Linked DNA regions of Homo sapiens. The protein of the gene in region 2 purifies or fractionates together with the protein of the main gene of each other region. This does not show direct contact. Each region holds a gene or a part of one and is shown on either strand. Other genes may lie near its edges.

The links. Proteins that work in one complex are often made in the same cells at the same time.
Region 1: the proteins of CFC1 (region 2) and CEMIP purify together in Homo sapiens (affinity purification with mass spectrometry; one large-scale study listed by BioGRID and IntAct). This does not show direct contact.
Region 3: the proteins of CFC1 (region 2) and POGLUT1 purify together in Homo sapiens (affinity purification with mass spectrometry; one large-scale study listed by BioGRID and IntAct). This does not show direct contact.
Region 4: the proteins of CFC1 (region 2) and CLSTN3 purify together in Homo sapiens (affinity purification with mass spectrometry; one large-scale study listed by BioGRID and IntAct). This does not show direct contact.

The regions. Positions count from the first base shown.
Region 1 is NC_000015.10:80,946,161-80,950,648, forward strand, and holds part of CEMIP (cell migration-inducing and hyaluronan-binding protein precursor), read left to right. Parts: intron 1-128; exon of another isoform or gene 129-804; coding exon 805-905; exon of another isoform or gene 906-2,636; coding exon 2,637-2,764; 3' UTR 2,765-4,488. UniProt on the Homo sapiens protein: Mediates depolymerization of hyaluronic acid (HA) via the cell membrane-associated clathrin-coated pit endocytic pathway. Binds to hyaluronic acid.
Region 2 is NC_000002.12:130,596,045-130,601,203, reverse strand, and holds the start of CFC1 (cryptic protein isoform 1 precursor), read left to right. Parts: upstream 1-1,628; 5' UTR 1,629-1,916; coding exon 1,917-1,939; intron 1,940-2,244; coding exon 2,245-2,294; intron 2,295-2,388; coding exon 2,389-2,562; intron 2,563-2,806; coding exon of another isoform or gene 2,807-2,988; exon of another isoform or gene 2,989-3,206; intron 3,207-3,221; coding exon 3,222-3,336; intron 3,337-3,600; coding exon 3,601-3,710; intron 3,711-5,159. UniProt on the Homo sapiens protein: NODAL coreceptor involved in the correct establishment of the left-right axis. May play a role in mesoderm and/or neural patterning during gastrulation.
Region 3 is NC_000003.12:119,474,754-119,479,241, forward strand, and holds part of POGLUT1 (protein O-glucosyltransferase 1 precursor), read left to right. Parts: intron 1-2,559; coding exon 2,560-2,695; intron 2,696-3,580; exon of another isoform or gene 3,581-3,721; intron 3,722-4,423; exon of another isoform or gene 4,424-4,488. UniProt on the Homo sapiens protein: Dual specificity glycosyltransferase that catalyzes the transfer of glucose and xylose from UDP-glucose and UDP-xylose, respectively, to a serine residue found in the consensus sequence of C-X-S-X-P-C.
Region 4 is NC_000012.12:7,139,662-7,144,149, reverse strand, and holds part of CLSTN3 (calsyntenin-3 precursor), read right to left. Parts: intron 2,909-4,488; coding exon 2,746-2,908; intron 2,065-2,745; coding exon 2,011-2,064; intron 1,282-2,010; coding exon 1,124-1,281; intron 988-1,123; coding exon 839-987; intron 1-838. UniProt on the Homo sapiens protein: Postsynaptic adhesion molecule that binds to presynaptic neurexins to mediate both excitatory and inhibitory synapse formation.

The DNA of each region.
Region 1 (4,488 bases), on a different chromosome or scaffold from region 2:
TTCTCCCAGAAAGACTTCAAACCTGGCCATGCTCTTCCTGCAGCTCAGAGAAGGCTGGCTCTGGACTACACTAAGCCTGTGTCCATCAAAAGAAGACAGCAAAAGAAAGATGCGCTCCAAGAGAAATCTTCTAGCATGGGGCTTCTCGAGCTTTAATGTATACATGATCACCTGCAGATCTTGTAAAAATGCAGATTCTGATTCAGGAAGTCTGCAATGGAGGAATTCTGTGGTTCTAATGAAATCCCAGGGGATGCCAAATGGAGCTGGTCTCTAGAACCTTCAGGATCTAGAACCTTCAGGAGCTCCTGGATGGTTTTATGATTTGACAGATGCTCCCCTCCGCCTTCCCGCACCTCCTCTCTTTCTCTTCCCTTTCTCCTTCCTTCCTCCATCACCACATTTCTATCTGGTCTTACCTAACCAGGGTTGAGAACATTCAAGGGAAGAGATACATATCGAAGTCCTACTGTGTGCCGAGCCCTGGCATGGTACGCTCTGCTTACATCCTCTCCTCTGTTTGGAGAGAGACATGTAAACGCGGTGAGCCAAGTCCAGGCTTGGAGAAGGCTGTGGGCACCAACTGTGGCCAGATGTGTGGGAGGGAGCTCAGGATGTTCGTCACCACATGGAAAGAGCCCGTCAGCTCAGAACACAGGAGAGGCTGCCCTTTCCCGAATCCCTGGACAGGCCTCTGGGCACTGCTAACTCCAGTCCCACCATGCACAAACCAACATCCCTCCCCATGCCCACTTTCTCCAGTTTGCTCTCTCCCTCTGGTCTAATTGGTTTCTTCTCACACAGTTCCATAGTGCTTATGGCATCAAAGGGAAGATACGTCTCCAGAGGCCCATGGACCAGAGTGCTGGAAAAGCTTGGGGCAGACAGGGGTCTCAAGTTGAAAGGTAAGGGTTTGAACTGGGGTTTAAACTGACCCCAAAACCAGAGAAGGCAAATGCCTGGCATGGAGGGTGCTGTCATCTTTTGCTGAGTTGAGAACATGCTTTGTACTAAACGTGGGTACAACCTAAGAATCCCCCACACAACTAGTGGTCTACTGGAATGGATGGGCAAGATGCCACCTGTTTACCACCCCTGCACTGCAGCAAATTTATTATAACTTGCCACCAGCCACTGAAAGAAAATTGCTATATTTGTTGACTCATTTGCTTGGAAAGTGGCCCTTTATTCAACAAAAGTATCATAAGAAAAGTGGCTTAGTCTCACCCTCCTACCCAATTCCTGCTATTCAGACTGGCCAGGGGTCCTGCATCTTCTTCAACATTCTAGCTGATGCCTAGCGTTTGTACAGTCCTTTGCAGCTTGCAAAACTCTTATTTGTTCCAGAAAACTAAAGCCCAGAGAACCTACATGGCTTGTCCAAGGCCAGGCAGCTTCGGTGGTGAAGCCTAGCACAGGCTTGCTGGCTGTGCTGGAAGAAGCCATCCAGGAGGGACATGTCAGCATGACACCCATTATCATCACAAAAACTAGGTGCAGGGAGAGTCCTCAGAGAGGCTGTATGGGCGGCAGAGAAGCTCCACGGGCAATAATGATAATGATCATTGTGGTTGCTATTCAATGTTCAGCCTTGCACTTTGCACAACATGTTATAATTATCTCACTTACTCATTAATAACCTGTGCAGCAGGTACTATTATTTCCATTTAAGATGAGGACACCAAGAATTTAACAGCCAAGCCACTTGCTTAAGGTTAGGACTTGGATCCTAATCTTCCTAACTCAAAGCTGGGCTTCTTAGTTATACACCATCCTCACTATGGAAAACATCAAAATCAGAAACCCATCATATGGGGCAATGAGAAAAATCAGAAGCAATGCAAACCCTTCAAACCAGCCAAAGGAGGACATAAGGAAAAGAGAAGTATCCTTTCCAGCCCAGTCCTGAAATCATTTTGGAGCCTCTGTCTTTTAAATTAAGATCCCGGTTGCCAAAAGCTGATGTATGTAAGGTGACCTAAGTTGAATGGCACTTTCCCGGTGGTGATAAATGCATGTTGCCTGCCAAGATGGGCTGAGTATAGACGTGGATTCCCATGCCCCTCGGATGCTCAAGCTGTGAACTGCAAGATGGAGAGTGCTGTGTGGGTTTCAGGGGTTTAGAGTTCTAATCTGGGGTGCACCATTTACTCCACACTCTTGGTCAAATTTCTTCACCTCTCAGAACTCTTTCTAGAGCCACAGAGTGATAGAGTGGGGAAGGAGATCTTGTAGATCAATGCCATCATTTGATGGATGGGAACACTGGGCTTCAGAGAGGGGCAGGGACTTGCTGGTTGTCCTAGGGGCAGCTCAAAGGTAGGCAGGTTCCTAGGAGGTCTCCTCCCTTACAGTTTGCCCCATTTCCTGCTGTGCATGGCTCCCCTGTCTACAACAAAGCCATCACCCTGCCTAGGTGGCAGTGAGGCTCAGGTGAGACCCTGCCTGCCCCATACAAACACATGTCAGGCACCATCAGTAGCTGAGCACAGAGCTCTTCCCAAGGGGCCACAGTGCAGTGTGGCTAGGCGGTACCTGGTGGGCGTGGGGGGCTGGCGATGGGGAGCCATGGAACGGGGTGGGGCAGCCGTCCTCTCATAGGGCTTTTGCTCAGGAGACTCATCATTGCTTTTCAGAGCAAATGGCATTCGTTGGCTTCAAAGGCAGCTTCCGGCCCATCTGGGTGACACTGGACACTGAGGATCACAAAGCCAAAATCTTCCAAGTTGTGCCCATCCCTGTGGTGAAGAAGAAGAAGTTGTGAGGACAGCTGCCGCCCGGTGCCACCTCGTGGTAGACTATGACGGTGACTCTTGGCAGCAGACCAGTGGGGGATGGCTGGGTCCCCCAGCCCCTGCCAGCAGCTGCCTGGGAAGGCCGTGTTTCAGCCCTGATGGGCCAAGGGAAGGCTATCAGAGACCCTGGTGCTGCCACCTGCCCCTACTCAAGTGTCTACCTGGAGCCCCTGGGGCGGTGCTGGCCAATGCTGGAAACATTCACTTTCCTGCAGCCTCTTGGGTGCTTCTCTCCTATCTGTGCCTCTTCAGTGGGGGTTTGGGGACCATATCAGGAGACCTGGGTTGTGCTGACAGCAAAGATCCACTTTGGCAGGAGCCCTGACCCAGCTAGGAGGTAGTCTGGAGGGCTGGTCATTCACAGATCCCCATGGTCTTCAGCAGACAAGTGAGGGTGGTAAATGTAGGAGAAAGAGCCTTGGCCTTAAGGAAATCTTTACTCCTGTAAGCAAGAGCCAACCTCACAGGATTAGGAGCTGGGGTAGAACTGGCTATCCTTGGGGAAGAGGCAAGCCCTGCCTCTGGCCGTGTCCACCTTTCAGGAGACTTTGAGTGGCAGGTTTGGACTTGGACTAGATGACTCTCAAAGGCCCTTTTAGTTCTGAGATTCCAGAAATCTGCTGCATTTCACATGGTACCTGGAACCCAACAGTTCATGGATATCCACTGATATCCATGATGCTGGGTGCCCCAGCGCACACGGGATGGAGAGGTGAGAACTAATGCCTAGCTTGAGGGGTCTGCAGTCCAGTAGGGCAGGCAGTCAGGTCCATGTGCACTGCAATGCCAGGTGGAGAAATCACAGAGAGGTAAAATGGAGGCCAGTGCCATTTCAGAGGGGAGGCTCAGGAAGGCTTCTTGCTTACAGGAATGAAGGCTGGGGGCATTTTGCTGGGGGGAGATGAGGCAGCCTCTGGAATGGCTCAGGGATTCAGCCCTCCCTGCCGCTGCCTGCTGAAGCTGGTGACTACGGGGTCGCCCTTTGCTCACGTCTCTCTGGCCCACTCATGATGGAGAAGTGTGGTCAGAGGGGAGCAATGGGCTTTGCTGCTTATGAGCACAGAGGAATTCAGTCCCCAGGCAGCCCTGCCTCTGACTCCAAGAGGGTGAAGTCCACAGAAGTGAGCTCCTGCCTTAGGGCCTCATTTGCTCTTCATCCAGGGAACTGAGCACAGGGGGCCTCCAGGAGACCCTAGATGTGCTCGTACTCCCTCGGCCTGGGATTTCAGAGCTGGAAATATAGAAAATATCTAGCCCAAAGCCTTCATTTTAACAGATGGGGAAAGTGAGCCCCCAAGATGGGAAAGAACCACACAGCTAAGGGAGGGCCTGGGGAGCCCCACCCTAGCCCTTGCTGCCACACCACATTGCCTCAACAACCGGCCCCAGAGTGCCCAGGCACTCCTGAGGTAGCTTCTGGAAATGGGGACAAGTCCCCTCGAAGGAAAGGAAATGACTAGAGTAGAATGACAGCTAGCAGATCTCTTCCCTCCTGCTCCCAGCGCACACAAACCCGCCCTCCCCTTGGTGTTGGCGGTCCCTGTGGCCTTCACTTTGTTCACTACCTGTCAGCCCAGCCTGGGTGCACAGTAGCTGCAACTCCCCATTGGTGCTACCTGGCTCTCCTGTCTCTGCAGCTCTACAGGTGAGGCCCAGCAGAGGGAGTAGGGCTCGCCATGTTTCTGGTGAGCCA
Region 2 (5,159 bases):
ATGCCAGTAATCCCAGCACTTTGGGAGGCCGAGGCGGGTGGATCACGAGGTCAGGAGATCAAGACCATCCTGGCTAACACGGTGAAACCCCGTCTCTACTAAAAATACAAAAAAATTAGCCAGGCATGGTGGTGGGCGCCTGTAGTCCCAGCTACTCGGGAGGCTGAGGCAGGAGAATGGTGTGAATCCGGGAGGCGGAGGTTGCAGTGAGCCGAGATTGCACCACTGCACTCCAGCCTGGGCCACAGAGCTAGACTCCGTCTCAAAAAAATAAAGTGTGTTTTTCACCGGACACGGTGGGTTTGTGCCTGTAATCCCAGCACTTTGGGAGGCAGAGGCAGGAGGATCGCTTAAGGCCAGAAGTTAGAGGACAGCCTGGGAAACATAGCAAGATCCCTATCTCTACAAAATAAAAAAAAAATTAGCTGGGCATAGGGGCGCGAGCCTGTAGTCCTAGCCACTCAGAGGCTGGGGTAGGAGGATCACTTAAGCCCAGAAGTTCGAGGATGTGGTGAGCTATGATCGCCCACTGCACTCCAGCCTGGCTGACAGAGTGACACTTTGCCTCTAAAAAACAAAATTAACAAGGTGTTTGTCTCATGACTTACAGCACTTACAGATGCTTGATGAAGTCCTGGGGCACCTTCCTCCATGTGCTCTGCCCACTCGGGTCTGCTGGCCTTGACCTGGTCCTTGCAGCCCACAGGACCCATTGCTGGGAGGCCCCCCAGGGTAGCCCGGTCCTCCAATTTCCTATTGCTTTATTTAACAGCCTCTTTAATAAACCTCACACGTAAAGATGTAAGAAATTAAATCACCATTAAAGACTATTTCAGCCTTGGAGGAAGAATACTATTTTTAGAAATGAGTTTTTATATTAAAATCACAGAACAATTTGCAACACTGGGTTGCAAAGTGTCTTCTTTAGTGCTGATAAAAGGGGCTCAGTCCCTATTCTGGTAGTTAGAAAAGCAGATTTAGAAGGTGCTAGAAAATACCCCAAATCACTCCTTCCTTGGGTTCCGTTTGGATTCAGCAGGCTCCTCTGGCGATGGGCGGGCGCCGCAGTTGCGCCTGTGCTCCTAAGGGCTCGCCTTAAATACCTGTGGGTATCTCCTCATCATATCGGTGCCATTCATGTTTCTCAGAGATCTAACTGCCAAAGGACTTAAACTCTCTAAGCCTCCCTTTCTCTCTTTTCACGTGGGGGATAATAATAGTGCCTACCCTAGAGGGTCCTATAGTAAATGGGGGCAGTGCCCCTCCCCCACTTGCTGGGCACAGAGAAGAGGCTCCATCTGCAGAGTAAGGGGGCCTCTCTTAAAGCAGGGGTGACGTGCTTTCCCTTATCCTCGTGTTCCCCACTCAGGGCGGCTGGGACCCCAGGCTGTTGCCTGTGCCCCACACAGGAGCTCCCTCTCCCACAGGGCCCCTCACCATCTCCCAGTACAAGTAGTATGCAGTAGAAAATCTCCACCTTCCTGTGAAAGCTTTTTGTTCATGTTGGGATTTTTTTTTTTTTCCAGTGAGAAAATGGCTCGTCACCTTGGATACCAATGTTTTACATCAGGGATTGGTCACTCCTGCTGCTGTCAGCACTGTAAACACTGCTGGGGGGAGTCAGCCCAAGTCCCCACCCCCCAGCCAGGTCTCATAGAGGGAATTGTTCTTCAGGCTCGGAGGGGCCTGCCTGTCACTGCGCCCCCGACCCTAGCTCAGGGACTGCAGAACTCAAGATACCATCCCGTTTCTCCTGGCTGAGGAAGGGAAGGGAACATCCACATCTTCTGTACTCGTCCATTCTGTGTCCCCGGGGCCTGGAGTAAAGACACCTTCAAATGCAGAGACTCTTCAGATTCAGCTTTCCTGGAAACTGATCTTCAATGCACTAAGAGAAGGAGACTCTCAAACCAAAAATGACCTGGAGGCACCATGTCAGGTAAGGACAGAGGTCATGAGATCTTAGAGCCAAGAAGGGGTCTTAAGAGCCTCAGAATAAATCGTAGTGCATGAGCCACTGTTCATTAAAGGAGGTGTACACTTTCTGTCTCAAAATCTTTCTAAGCCATAGCAAAATTAACAAAAACCTACAAGTTACAAAATGATTGCCTTATTCATTATAATTATTTTACATAATTTTATATTTATATATAATGATGGCATTGTATTTTTATGTGTATGTGAATTTCTGCTTATACTTCTAAAGATACTTTCAACTTCAATGATTTTCTTTAAATATTCTAGGCTTCTGTTTACGGTCAGTTTGGCATTACAGATCATCAATTTGGGAAACAGTAAGAAACATTTTATTCATAATTTCAGTTTTAATTGCATAAAATATTTGTTTCTCAATCATTATCAGTCTCACATTTTCAATATTTTTTAAAGGCTATCAAAGAGAGAAACATAACGGCGGTAGAGAGGAAGTCACCAAGGTTGCCACTCAGAAGCACCGACAGTCACCGCTCAACTGGACCTCCAGTCATTTCGGAGAGGTGACTGGGAGCGCCGAGGGCTGGGGGCCGGAGGAGCCGCTCCCCTACTCCCGGGCTTTCGGAGAGGGTAAGTTGCAGCGCTGCCCACAAAATCCGGGGCGTCATCTCAGTCTGCGGACTCAGAGTTTAGGACCTGAGAATATGTAGGATAAATTCAGGATAAAATCCAAGGAGAGCATTTTGTTATCTTCAAATGATGATGCACTTACAAAGCTATAAAGCTAGAGACAGTTCCTAGTGAGGTGTTAAAAAGCTTTACTCTTTCATTGGTAAAACGTTGTATTTGCTCTTCAATGGTTATTTTGCTGCAGATCTAGAGAACTGTGATTTAAATGTGTTGAAAATAAATATCCCAAGCCAAGATAACAGCGGACTCTTGCTTGGCTTCTCCCAGACACCGCGTCCCCAGGAGGCCCCTCGCCGGTGGGTTTGGCGTCATCACACCCGTGGGTGGTCCCGCCCAGGAGGCCTGTGCTTAATCACTGTCAGGTGAAGCCACAGCCAGAGGTTAACATGTGAAAGGAAGGGAGAGAGCAAGCCCGGCTTGCAGGCCGCACCCCTGATAGTTTGTTTCACATCCCTAACAAGCAGGGTTTACCTGAGCAAACACACTTGGCTGGAGGCTGATTTTACTGCCTCCCCTGGGCGGCCACGTTCGGCCCCGTCCCTGCGGGGAGGGCCACGGGCCGCGGGGGGCGCGGGGCTGACGCCCGGGTGACCCCGCAGGTGCGTCCGCGCGGCCGCGCTGCTGCAGGAACGGCGGTACCTGCGTGCTGGGCAGCTTCTGCGTGTGCCCGGCCCACTTCACCGGCCGCTACTGCGAGCATGACCAGAGGCGCAGGTGGGCACAGGGGTGCGCGGGGTGGGGACGGGGGTGGGCGCCGGGTGAGGGACCTGCGGGTCTGGGGGCGCGGGAGTAGGCGTCAGGAGAGGGGCGCGCGGGTGCGGGGGCGCGGGAGTGGGCGCCGGGCGATGGGCGCGCGGGTTGGGGGGCGCGGGAGTTGGCGCCGGGGGAGGGATGCGCGGGTGGGGGAGCGGCGCAGGAGTGGGCGCCGGGCGAGGGGCGCGCGGGCCACCGCATTGATGCAGGTCCCCGTCTTCTCAGTGAATGCGGCGCCCTGGAGCACGGAGCCTGGACCCTCCGCGCCTGCCACCTCTGCAGGTGCATCTTCGGGGCCCTGCACTGCCTCCCCCTCCAGACGCCTGACCGCTGTGGTAAGAGGCCCTGTGATTCGGTCCCCAGCTCACCCCCGCACGCGGTTGCGCCTTCATTGCGGCTCACCCTCCATACCGATCCACAGTGCATCTTCCAGTGCCAGGCCACATAGCATTTAGCAAAGTAGATCGATTCATCATTGAAGAAAGTCGCATTCATTGGGAATCATATAGTGAATTAAATTTTGTTTTGAAGTTCTCATATCCAGATTGCTGAGTTTAAAAATGATTTCCAAACCATGTCCTCACATGTCCGTTTCAGTGAGCAGAATTTCAGGAGATGACCAGCTGGTAATCGGAGAGGAAGCTGGGAGACAAGTTAGCTGCGTAAATCTCAGGTGGTTTCCCTGCACTAGGCCAGCACCATCTGCTCAGCTGTGGGACCAGCAGGGACACAGGCAGGAGCCGCATTTCCCTCTGGAATCCTGTGCCTTCTCTCCTCTCCTCTTTGGTGATCACTGGCTGGGGCTAGCAATGGAGGGCACAGCTAGTGAAGGCCCAGCCTCTTGGCCCCAGCCCGAGCTCTGCCCTCTCCCAGGCCCGGGTGGGCTGGTGGTGCAGTGTCCAGAGGCACACCTGATGAAGCCAAGGCCCCTGATCCACTCTCCTGCCCCCTCCCTCCACTTCAGTCAGCCCTGGGCACCTCCATCTGTCAAAGAGCACAGCCCCGCAACCCCACTTCCCACCTGTCGCTCTCAGGCCGTCCTGCTAGGGCTGCATGGAGGGCAGCACCAGTGGCCCAAAGATCTTCAACCCGGCTCCCCCAGCCTCCCTCTTGCTCTTGGAGGCCCACAATGGAGGAGTACACAATGCATGCTTAGCTCTCCTTCACCTTCCTGTCCTCTCTTCTCTCCCTGGTAGGACCAGCAGTCAAGGGACACTCTTAATAGAGGCACAGCCCCCAACCCCACTTCCCACCCTGCTCCCTTCTCCTCAGCTAGCTCTGCATGGTGCCAGCAGGGAAGAGCACTCCCCGCCTGCCGTGCAGACCACATTTTCCCAAAGCACCCCCTCTTCTATGTGTGCTCCTTTTGCTGGGCCTCTGCCTCTGAAGTCACCAGCTGCTCCTCTATGCCCTAGAGACAGGAGGACACAGATTTCATGGACAGGCATCAGAATCACAGGGGGTGCTTGTGTGGTCCTCACAGATGAAGTCAGTTCCCACCTGCCATTAGGCCGCCCCAGCAGGAATGTGGGGAAGGGACTAGCTGTCATGACTTCCAGGATATCTGGTCATGATTTTACATTCTTGGAAACATCCAGTGCTGGGACTGCTATTTGCCAAGGACAATGATAATGGCTCTGAAAATGTGGCCTCTGTTCATCAAAGCTAGACAAAATAGTGCAGTCATCCTTCAGAGTCATCTGTCAGGTGCAGAGAGGGCAGTAACACCTTTGTGTTCTTTTACCCATTCATCCTGCTTCAAGGCAAGTTACAGTGATGCTGGT
Region 3 (4,488 bases), on a different chromosome or scaffold from region 2:
GCTTGAACCCGGGAGGCGGAGGTTACAGTGAGCTAAGACCACGCCATTACACTCCAGCCTGGTCAACAAGAAAGAAACTCCATCTCAAAAAATAAAAATTAAATTAAACTAAATTAAAAGCCAAATGTGAAAGAAATACGAGCATTTTAGCTGTAATGTATAAATTGTACTGCAATATTTTTTTACATTTTTTAACTAGTTTTTTTTTTCTTTTAGTGTCAAAGAGTATTACATACACTTTGGATATGTAAAATATCCAAATATTTTACCATGCTAAAATATTTGGATACCTCCAAAAGACATTCAGTGAAAAGGAAGTTTCTCTTCCACCTCAGACCCTCAGACTGCTAGTCCCTGAGACCTCTTTTCAAAAGACAATTAGAATTCTGTGTCTTGTATATCCTTCTAGAAATAGTCTGTACATTTACAAGCATCTAGACTCATCAACAAAATAAAACATGCTGTCTTCTGTTCTGCACTTAGATTTCTTTTCCATATAACAGTAGATTTTGAGATTGTTCCATAAGAGTCCATAGAGAATGCCTCACTTTTTCATGGCTGCATAATAACTTATTATATGGATTTCTTTATTCAGCCCTCTATCAGTGGACATTTAGATTATCCCTTACCACATCACTTTGCTTTTTGGATAACGCAAGCAATGCTGCAGTGAACATCCTTGTTACTGTGAACACTCATGTAAATATATATGTAGGCTAAATTCCTAAAAGTATAATAACTAGGGCAATTAATGTCATTTTAAAATCTTGATAAATAGGCTGGGTGAGGTGGCTCACGCCTGTTATCCCAGCACTTTGGATGGCTGAGACAGGCAGATCATCTGAGGTCAGGAGTTCAAGACCAGCCTGGCCAACATGGTGAGAACCTATCTCTACTAAAAATAAAAAAATTAGCTGGGCATGGTGGCCTGTGCCTGTAATCCTAGCTACTCGGGAGGCTGAGGCAGGAGAATCACTTGAAACCCGAGGTGGAGGTTGCAGTCAGCTGAGATTGCGCCATTGCACTCCAGCCTGGGCCACAGAGCAAGGCTCCATCTCAAAAAAAAAAAAAAATCTTGATAAACAGGCTGGGCACAGTGGCTCTCACCTGTAATCCCAGCACTTTGGGAGGCTGAGGTGGGAGGATCACTTGAGCCCAAGAGTTCAAGATCAGTCTGGACAACATACCAAGACTGTCTCTCCACACACACACACACACACACACACACACACACACACACAAACACATACAGAGTTGCCAGGTGTGTTGGCACACACCTGTAGTCCCAGCTACTCAGGAGGCTGAGGTGAGAAGATTGCTTGAGCCTAGGATTTTTGAGGCCACAGTGAGCCATGATCATGCCACTGCACTCTTCAGCCTGAGTGGCAGAGCGAGAGACCCTGCCTCAAATAAAAAAAACCTTAAAAAAAGAGAAATCTTGGTAAATAGAATCTAATTGTCCTACAAAGAGGCTAAACACTTCCACAACCGATATATCATATGCTGTGAATAGATCTCACACCCTTACCAACACTGCACTATTGGACTTTTTGATCTTTGCCAATCTGATTGGTAAAATTGGTATCTAGTTTCATTGACATTTCTTTATTATTAATACAGTTGAGCATCTTTTCCTATGTTTGTGAACTGTTGATATTTTTTGCAGTTATCTCCCTATATAAAAAACACTTTTTTTTTTTTTGGCTAGAGGAGCTCACTACATTGCCTACTGTGTCACTATGTTGCTGGTCTAGAACTCTTGGGCTCAAATAACCCTTCTGCCTAAGTCTCCCAAGTAGTAAAACAATATTTTAAATCAGTTATTTCCATGCTGCCAGAAAATTTTGATCAAGCCTTTGAATATTGCCCCTAGCATAGTGCTGGTCAGGACCTCAGAGGATGAGGCAGAAACAAGCTAAACTGTCAGTGTATCTTCTTTTTCTTTCAAGAAATCCCTGATTTCCCAGGGAATCTAGTCAGAAAGCTGTGTTACACTATTTATGATTATGTATATAACACTTTTTCTGGCTTGCAGAACTGATTTTGATAATGTTCTTTATTCAGGTTGAAGGTAATGAAAGGTTTTCTATCTGTTCTCATAAACTAGGAGACTTAATTATAATGGAAATAAAAATGGTGTCTTTGTGAGGAGCAAAGCCAAAGGAACACAGGTGGAAAATTAGCTATTTCAGCTATTACGAGAGTTTGTATCTTGTCTACTAATTAAACTATTCCATATAAGGGAAATAAAGAAAAGAACTGGAATGAATAAAGTGGTAGAAGTAGCAATAATACTCCCTTCAAAGCTATGACGATTTATTTGGAAAATTTTATTAAGTATTGTAAGCTGGAGCAGCTTAGCTATGAGTGAACTTGCACAATACAAAAAAGCAGAATAGCCCCTTTAGAAGCATTGTTTTCAGGAGACTTTGCAGTAGACTGATGATATGGAACACTGGAACACTGGCTTGTCTTACTTTAAAATGTGAATGGGACCTCGCCTTGTCCTAGAGCCTGCAGGCACTACTCTGCTGAATTTATGGTATGTCTGGTTGACAGGTGTAGTGGTGTTGAGCACTTTATTTTGGAAGTGATCGGGCGTCTCCCTGACATGGAGATGGTGATCAATGTACGAGATTATCCTCAGGTTCCTAAATGGATGGAGCCTGCCATCCCAGTCTTCTCCTTCAGTAAGGTAAGTACAGGGAGAGCCACATGGGTGGATGGAGAGTGGTCCTCTAGGATATGAGCATGAGATCTTTGTCCGGTGACATAGTCTGATGGATAATGGTAAGGATGAGGACTGAGGTCCAGAAATGGGTCTGTGTCTCTATTAGCATCACAGTGATTGAGCAAAAAGACAGAGGAGATGAAGTTGAGAGCTGGTAAGTAGTGTAAGATTGCTTGAGTGTCTATAGGGCTAGAGATGGAGGCTAGGGCGTGAGAGGCCTGAGAAACCTACAGGAATTAGAGGTGGGTCTTGAAGATCTTACAGAGCATGGGAGGAAGGGGTCCAAGAAAGCTTGGAGTTAGGGAACACCTTCATTCCAAAAGTTTGTTGAGCTCCTACTATGTATATATTCAGCCATAGTGCTGGGTATCAGCTGTCCCATCTGTCACCATATTCCGGGGGCCCAGGGTGGCTAAAAGTGAACCTGAAGGTGCCAGATAACTCCACACGGTGTGTGTACAAGCCGTGCATTGAAGGGATAGGCTGGAGATAGCCTAGAGGGCTATGCAAGGGGGTGATCTTTTAGACTCATCATGGAAGATTGGAGTAGCTAGGATACACCTGTGGGCTTGGGGAATTGGGGGCAAGGAATGTCTTGTCAGTGCTCAGGTTCATGTAAATGTTGTATCGGCAGGGATGGGCCTTGGTTCCCTAGAGACAAGGAAAGCATTTGGGGGTGAAGGCAGGAAGGCTAGAAGAGAGTGGATGGAAGATTCTATGGGGTAAGAGTGAATTGAGGAAAACCCCATGAAATTTGGGAAAAGGAACACTATTTCTGATTTGGTTTGTCTAAAGCAGAGGGACCTTTTATCCCCACTTTTTCTTTATCATAGTTTACTTTCTCCCTAGACTTGTTTTATTTCCTGTGTTGCAAGTGGGCAGAGGCCACATTTGTGTTGCATTTCCCATGGTCTAGCCTCATTTCTCGAAAGTGTTTGGTTCCATTGTTTGTCATGAAACTCACTCAGAAGAACAGATAGAGGCTCCCATGTAAGTCAGTAGGGACTTCGTGTTTGTTATCTATCTGTTGTTTCTATGGATAATAAAGTATGACCGTCGGTATACTAACTTTCCGTTCATCTTTACTTCCCTTCTGTTTTTTAAATCAGTGACTTCTAGTTTCCAAGGGAGAGTTTTACTCTGTCAACTTTATAGTTAATTGTGCAGCTTCTATTGAATAGCTGTTATGTTTAAGGTGCTTGATGAATCACATTTTTTACATATTTGAGAGACAGCAAACAGCATATTGCACATGTATTTCCAGTGGAAGAAATAGTAGAGTTAGAGGTTTATCAGTGGCCAGATTTTTAACAGAAGTAACCATAAAAAGGGAACAAATGGAGGCCAGGTGTAGTGGCTCACACCTGTAATCCCAGCACTTTGGGAGGCCGAGGCAGGTGGATCAAAAAAAAAAAAAAAAGGGGGGAACATATGGCTTTAAACTTTTTTCTTTTTTTTGAGGCAGAGTCTCACTCTGTTGCCCAGGCTGGAGTGCAGTGGCGCGATCTCAGCTCACTGCAACCTCCACCTCCCAGGTTCAAGTGATTCTCCACCTCAGCCTCCTGAGTATCTGGGACTATAGGCACCTGCCACCATGCCCGGCTATTATTTTGTGTGTATTTTTTAGTAGAGACAGGGTTTCACCATGTTGACCAGGCTGATTTCAAACTCCTGACCTCAGGTGATCTACCCGTCTCGGCCTCCCAAAGTGCTGGGATTACAGGTGTGAGCCACCGTGCCCAACCTCAAACTTCTTT
Region 4 (4,488 bases), on a different chromosome or scaffold from region 2:
GTTCAAGCAATTCTCCTGTCTCAGCCTCCCAAGTAACTGGGATTACAGGCACGTGCCACCATGCCCAGCTAATTTTTGTATTTTTAGTAGAGACAGGGTTTCACCATGTTGGCCAGGCTGGTCTTGAACTCCTCGTGATCCATCTGCCTTGGCCTCCCAAAGTGCTGGGATTACAGGCGTGAGCCACCGTGCCCGGCCAGCAAACTTTTTCTATGAAGGATTAGATAGTTCTGTTTGAGGGGGCCATATGATCTTTGTCCCAACTACCCACAGTTCTGCCATCACAGTGAAAGTAGCCATAGACATATGCAATGAATGGGCACTGCTGTGTTCCAATAAAACTACAAAACAGGTGGGCAGGCCAGATTTGGCCTAGGACTGCCAACCCCCAGACTTAGGCCATCGTACGTGACCTTGCAAGAGCTTGGTGAAGCAAGATTAAAACAAGTGAAGCAGCCAGGACTCACCATTTGCCCGAGGTTATCCAAGCAATTCGCATTGAGTCAGAATTAATGTCAGGTCTCCCCACTCCCAATCCTGTGTCCCACTTTACGTATCAGCACAGAGGCATAGAGAAGATCAAAGCCCGGAAACCCTAGATGTGTGACTTGGTAGAAAGAGTAACAGATTGATTGTTGAGAAATCTGAGTATAGTCCAGACTCTTCTACCAATATTGCTATGTGACCTTCAGTGGTCAATTGTCTCCATTTGAGGGCCCAATCTCCTCATCCATAAAACAAAAGAGGTATGCCTAGCTCTAGGTGACGCCTTAGGCCAAGGAGCTGTGACACTGTCTGGCTCTGCTTGGTGATTTGCCCTGCCCCACCCAACACTCACTTGACAGCAGTGGTGAGGCGCAGGGGCCTGACGCCGGGCGTGGCAAAGCGCAGAGTGTTCATGTAAGCCACATGCTGCAGGGCATGGTTGAAGGTCTCCACATCATCCCCCTCCAGGGTGAGCAGGGACTGTGAGGGGTTCACGTGGACCTGGGCCCCAGACACAGATACAGCTGAGAGCAGGGCCAGGAGGTGGCAGAGGAAGGGAGCAGAGGTAGAGGGGTAGGGCAAGGGGGTGGGGCAAGGGGCATGCTGGGAAGAACAGGGCTAGAGGATGGGGCAATACCTTCATGCCTTTGCCCAGGCTCTCGAAATCCCTATAGTCCAGCCCCTCCCGACATGCATAGAGGCACTCGATGACCTCGCGGCTCTCCAGGCGACCTGAGCGCACGCTGAAACCAGCCAGGTAGCCATGGAAGTAGTGGTGGATCGACAAAGGGTCTCCTAGGGTAGGAACACAGGAGCAGGACGGGAGGTGAGAAGAGAGGAGGATGGAAAAGGACGAAGGCTGAGAGAAAGGGAAAGGAGAGAAAGAGCAGAAGAGTTGAGAAAGAAAAAAAGGAGAAATGTGGAAACCAAAAAAAAAAAAAAAAAGGAAAAAAGAGAGATGAGAGGTGAGGGAGAAGTGAAGGTAAGGGGGGAGGCTAGAGAAGGGAGAAAATGAGACAAAAGAAGACAGAATAAAGCCAGGGGAGAAGAAGAAGGGTGAAAAGTAGAAGCAACAAAGATGAGAGGGAGGAAGAGAAGGAAACAGGACCAACAGGAGGAAAGAGTCAAAACAAGGAGGGAGGGGGAGGCGGCAGGAGAGAACGTCTTTCCAGTGACATGCAGGGAGACCAGGATGGATGTGAGCGAGCTTCACAGATGCCCAGACCTTCCCCTTCTGCGTGTCTGACTCCTGACTCCTGCCACCTCCCTTCTACCATGTGGAAAGCCACCAAGAGAGCCCCATTCTTCATTCTGTGGGCAGGACAGGATACCCAGAACCCAGCCAAGCTGCCTCTAGCCTTACCACTCCAGGAGCCCCTGCCCTGCTGTATTTCTTGGAGGCTCTGCCCCCTGGTGGCCTAGGAGGCTGTCACAGGCTGGATAGGATTTGGGGTGGAAAAGGGATCTCAGAACAGAAAGTGAAGATGAGAACTCTCTGGTCTCCAGTTCTTACACACGGAGTACCTTGGGTGGTGTCTGTACTGTTGTCTCCCTTTTCCTTCTCTTTGTTCTTCTCCTCTGGGGATAAAAAAAAAAAAAAAACAGTGCTGGTGAGCTCAGGGATGTGGAGAGATTGACAGAGAGGAATGAGATGTCTTCCTCTCATCCCCATGAGTGCTCTCATGCCCACATGGGATTCTGACCCTGCCCATGTATAACTTGCAACCTCTCAGCTCAGCCCCAACCCTTCTTTTGTCATGTTCCAACCTCTCCAGCCTCTATTATAGACAAACCCCCAAATACGATATGCTGCTGAGGAAACACGTGGGCTCTGGTAAGACAGACAGGCACATGTGCACACACACACTCCCAAGAGGAGAAAAATTTTTTCAATGGCTTAAAAGTTGGAAGACCGAGGACACTCTAAGGGGTTACTCTCCTTGAGCAGGGGAATGGGCTATGGAAGTCATCATCACTTTGATGGAAAAAAGTGGAAACTGGCTGGAGTTACAGAGAGAGAGTCTGGGGATGCGTGAGAAGTTAATTCCTCCAAGTCAGAGGTGATGACCCATTGGATTAGTGGGAGATACGGGAGGGAGGCTGTGGTCCCTTCCCATGGAGATCTTCAGAGTCACCCTGCACAGCTGCAGAGAGATGCAGGAGGCGGCCTCAGCTGCTGGGTCAGACTGCCCTTGCTCCTCACCAGCCTACCTCCCTTCCCAAATCCTGAACCACTGGAGTCTTCACTGAGAAGCTTACCAGTCCAGCAGGCCCCAATCATGAGAGCAGGCTCCCTTCGGGGTGGGTGGATGAGGCCATTGTCATGGATGAGGGCAGGGTCGAAGGAGATGCCGTCGGTATAGAGTGTGACTGTGGGGAACTCGAGGTTCAGAGCGTAGTGGTGCCACTCATCATCACAGACCTGGGAGAGTAGGGTAGGGGCAAGAGCCTCTCAGGTAATTCGTCTTCAGAGAGCTAACCCTAGGCACTGCCCCATCTCCTGGGAGACAGGGGACAGTCCCTTTATTCCCAGTTCTACCAACAGGGCTTACTAGTGCTTTGCTGCCTATCCAGCTCGAGGAATAACATCCTTGTCCAAAATCTATCAGGCAACCAACCTAGTAGCAAAGATTCCACTCTTCAGGTAAATCGTTAAAGCTATAAATATTCCTAAGAGGAGTAACACACTTTCATGAATAAATTCCCTGCCCCCCGAACTTATGTATTACATATGTGTGTAAGGCACTGGAAACTCTAGAGATGGGGTTTCCTTCTGTCCCCCAGGCTGGAGTGCAGTGGTGCAATCATAGCCCACTGAAGCCTCAAACCCCTCGGCTCAAGCAATCCTCCCACTTCAGCCTCTGGGGTAGCTGGGACTACAGGTATGTGCCACCATGTCCAGCTAATTTTTTTATTTTTTAGAGATGAGCTATCACTATGTTGCCTAGGCTGGTCTCCAACTCCTGGCCTCCAGTGATCCTCTCAGCCTCCCAAGTAGCTGGGATCACAGGTTATCTCTAGGATAGCTTCTAACCCAACATTAAGCACTAAAATAAATATTGCTTCCCTTTGCAGTCTCTCCTAGGGCCAGCCAAGATGGAATGGGGGATGGTCAGAGGAAAAAGGGGCAGAGAGTACTCTGCCTCATCCAGTTCCAAATGTTGGGGTCCCTCAAGGCTCAGACCTAGGCCCTCTTCTCTTTCCTCTCTACACTCTTTTCCTAGAAGTCACCTCATCTGTTGCCATGGGTTTGGGTACCATAGTTATACACTGGTAACTCCAAAATCCACATCTCCAGCCCATAACTCTCCTCTGAATGCCAGATTCTCCACTTGGATGCCCACAAGTATCTCACATTTAACACGTGTAAGGTGCAAGTCCATGCCCTTTCCCAACTCCCTCAGTTTCTCCCCAGGCAGTATAAATGCTCCATCATCCATCTAGCTGCTCAAGTGGCTGACGTAGGAGACAACTTTGATCTTCCCTTTCCCTCAGCCTCCACATCCAGTCCATTAGCAGGTGCTGTTGATCCCAGGTCCAAACAGAGCTACAAGCTGCAGGTTTCTGTGCAGGTCTCTCCGTCTCCATTGCCACACATCAGTCATGTCTCCAACCCCTTTCATGAAGACTGTTGCAACAGTCCTGTTTACTGTCACCATTAGATACCTTCAATACAACCATCCCACAGTTGCCAAGGGGATCTTGTTAAAATGTAAATCTGGCCAGGCGCAGTGGCTCACGCCTGTAATCCTAGCTCTTTAGGAGGCCAAGGTGGGTGGATCACGTCAAGAGATCAAGACCATCCTGGCCAACATGGTGAAACCCCATCTCTACTAAAAATACAAAAATTAGCTGGGCGTGGTGGCACACGCCTGTAGTCCCAACTACTAGGGAAGCTGAGGCAGGAGAATCTCTTGAACCCGGGAGGCCGAGGTTGCAGTGAGCCAAGATCGCACCACTGCACTCCAGCCTAGTGACAGAGTGAGACTCCATCTCAAAAAA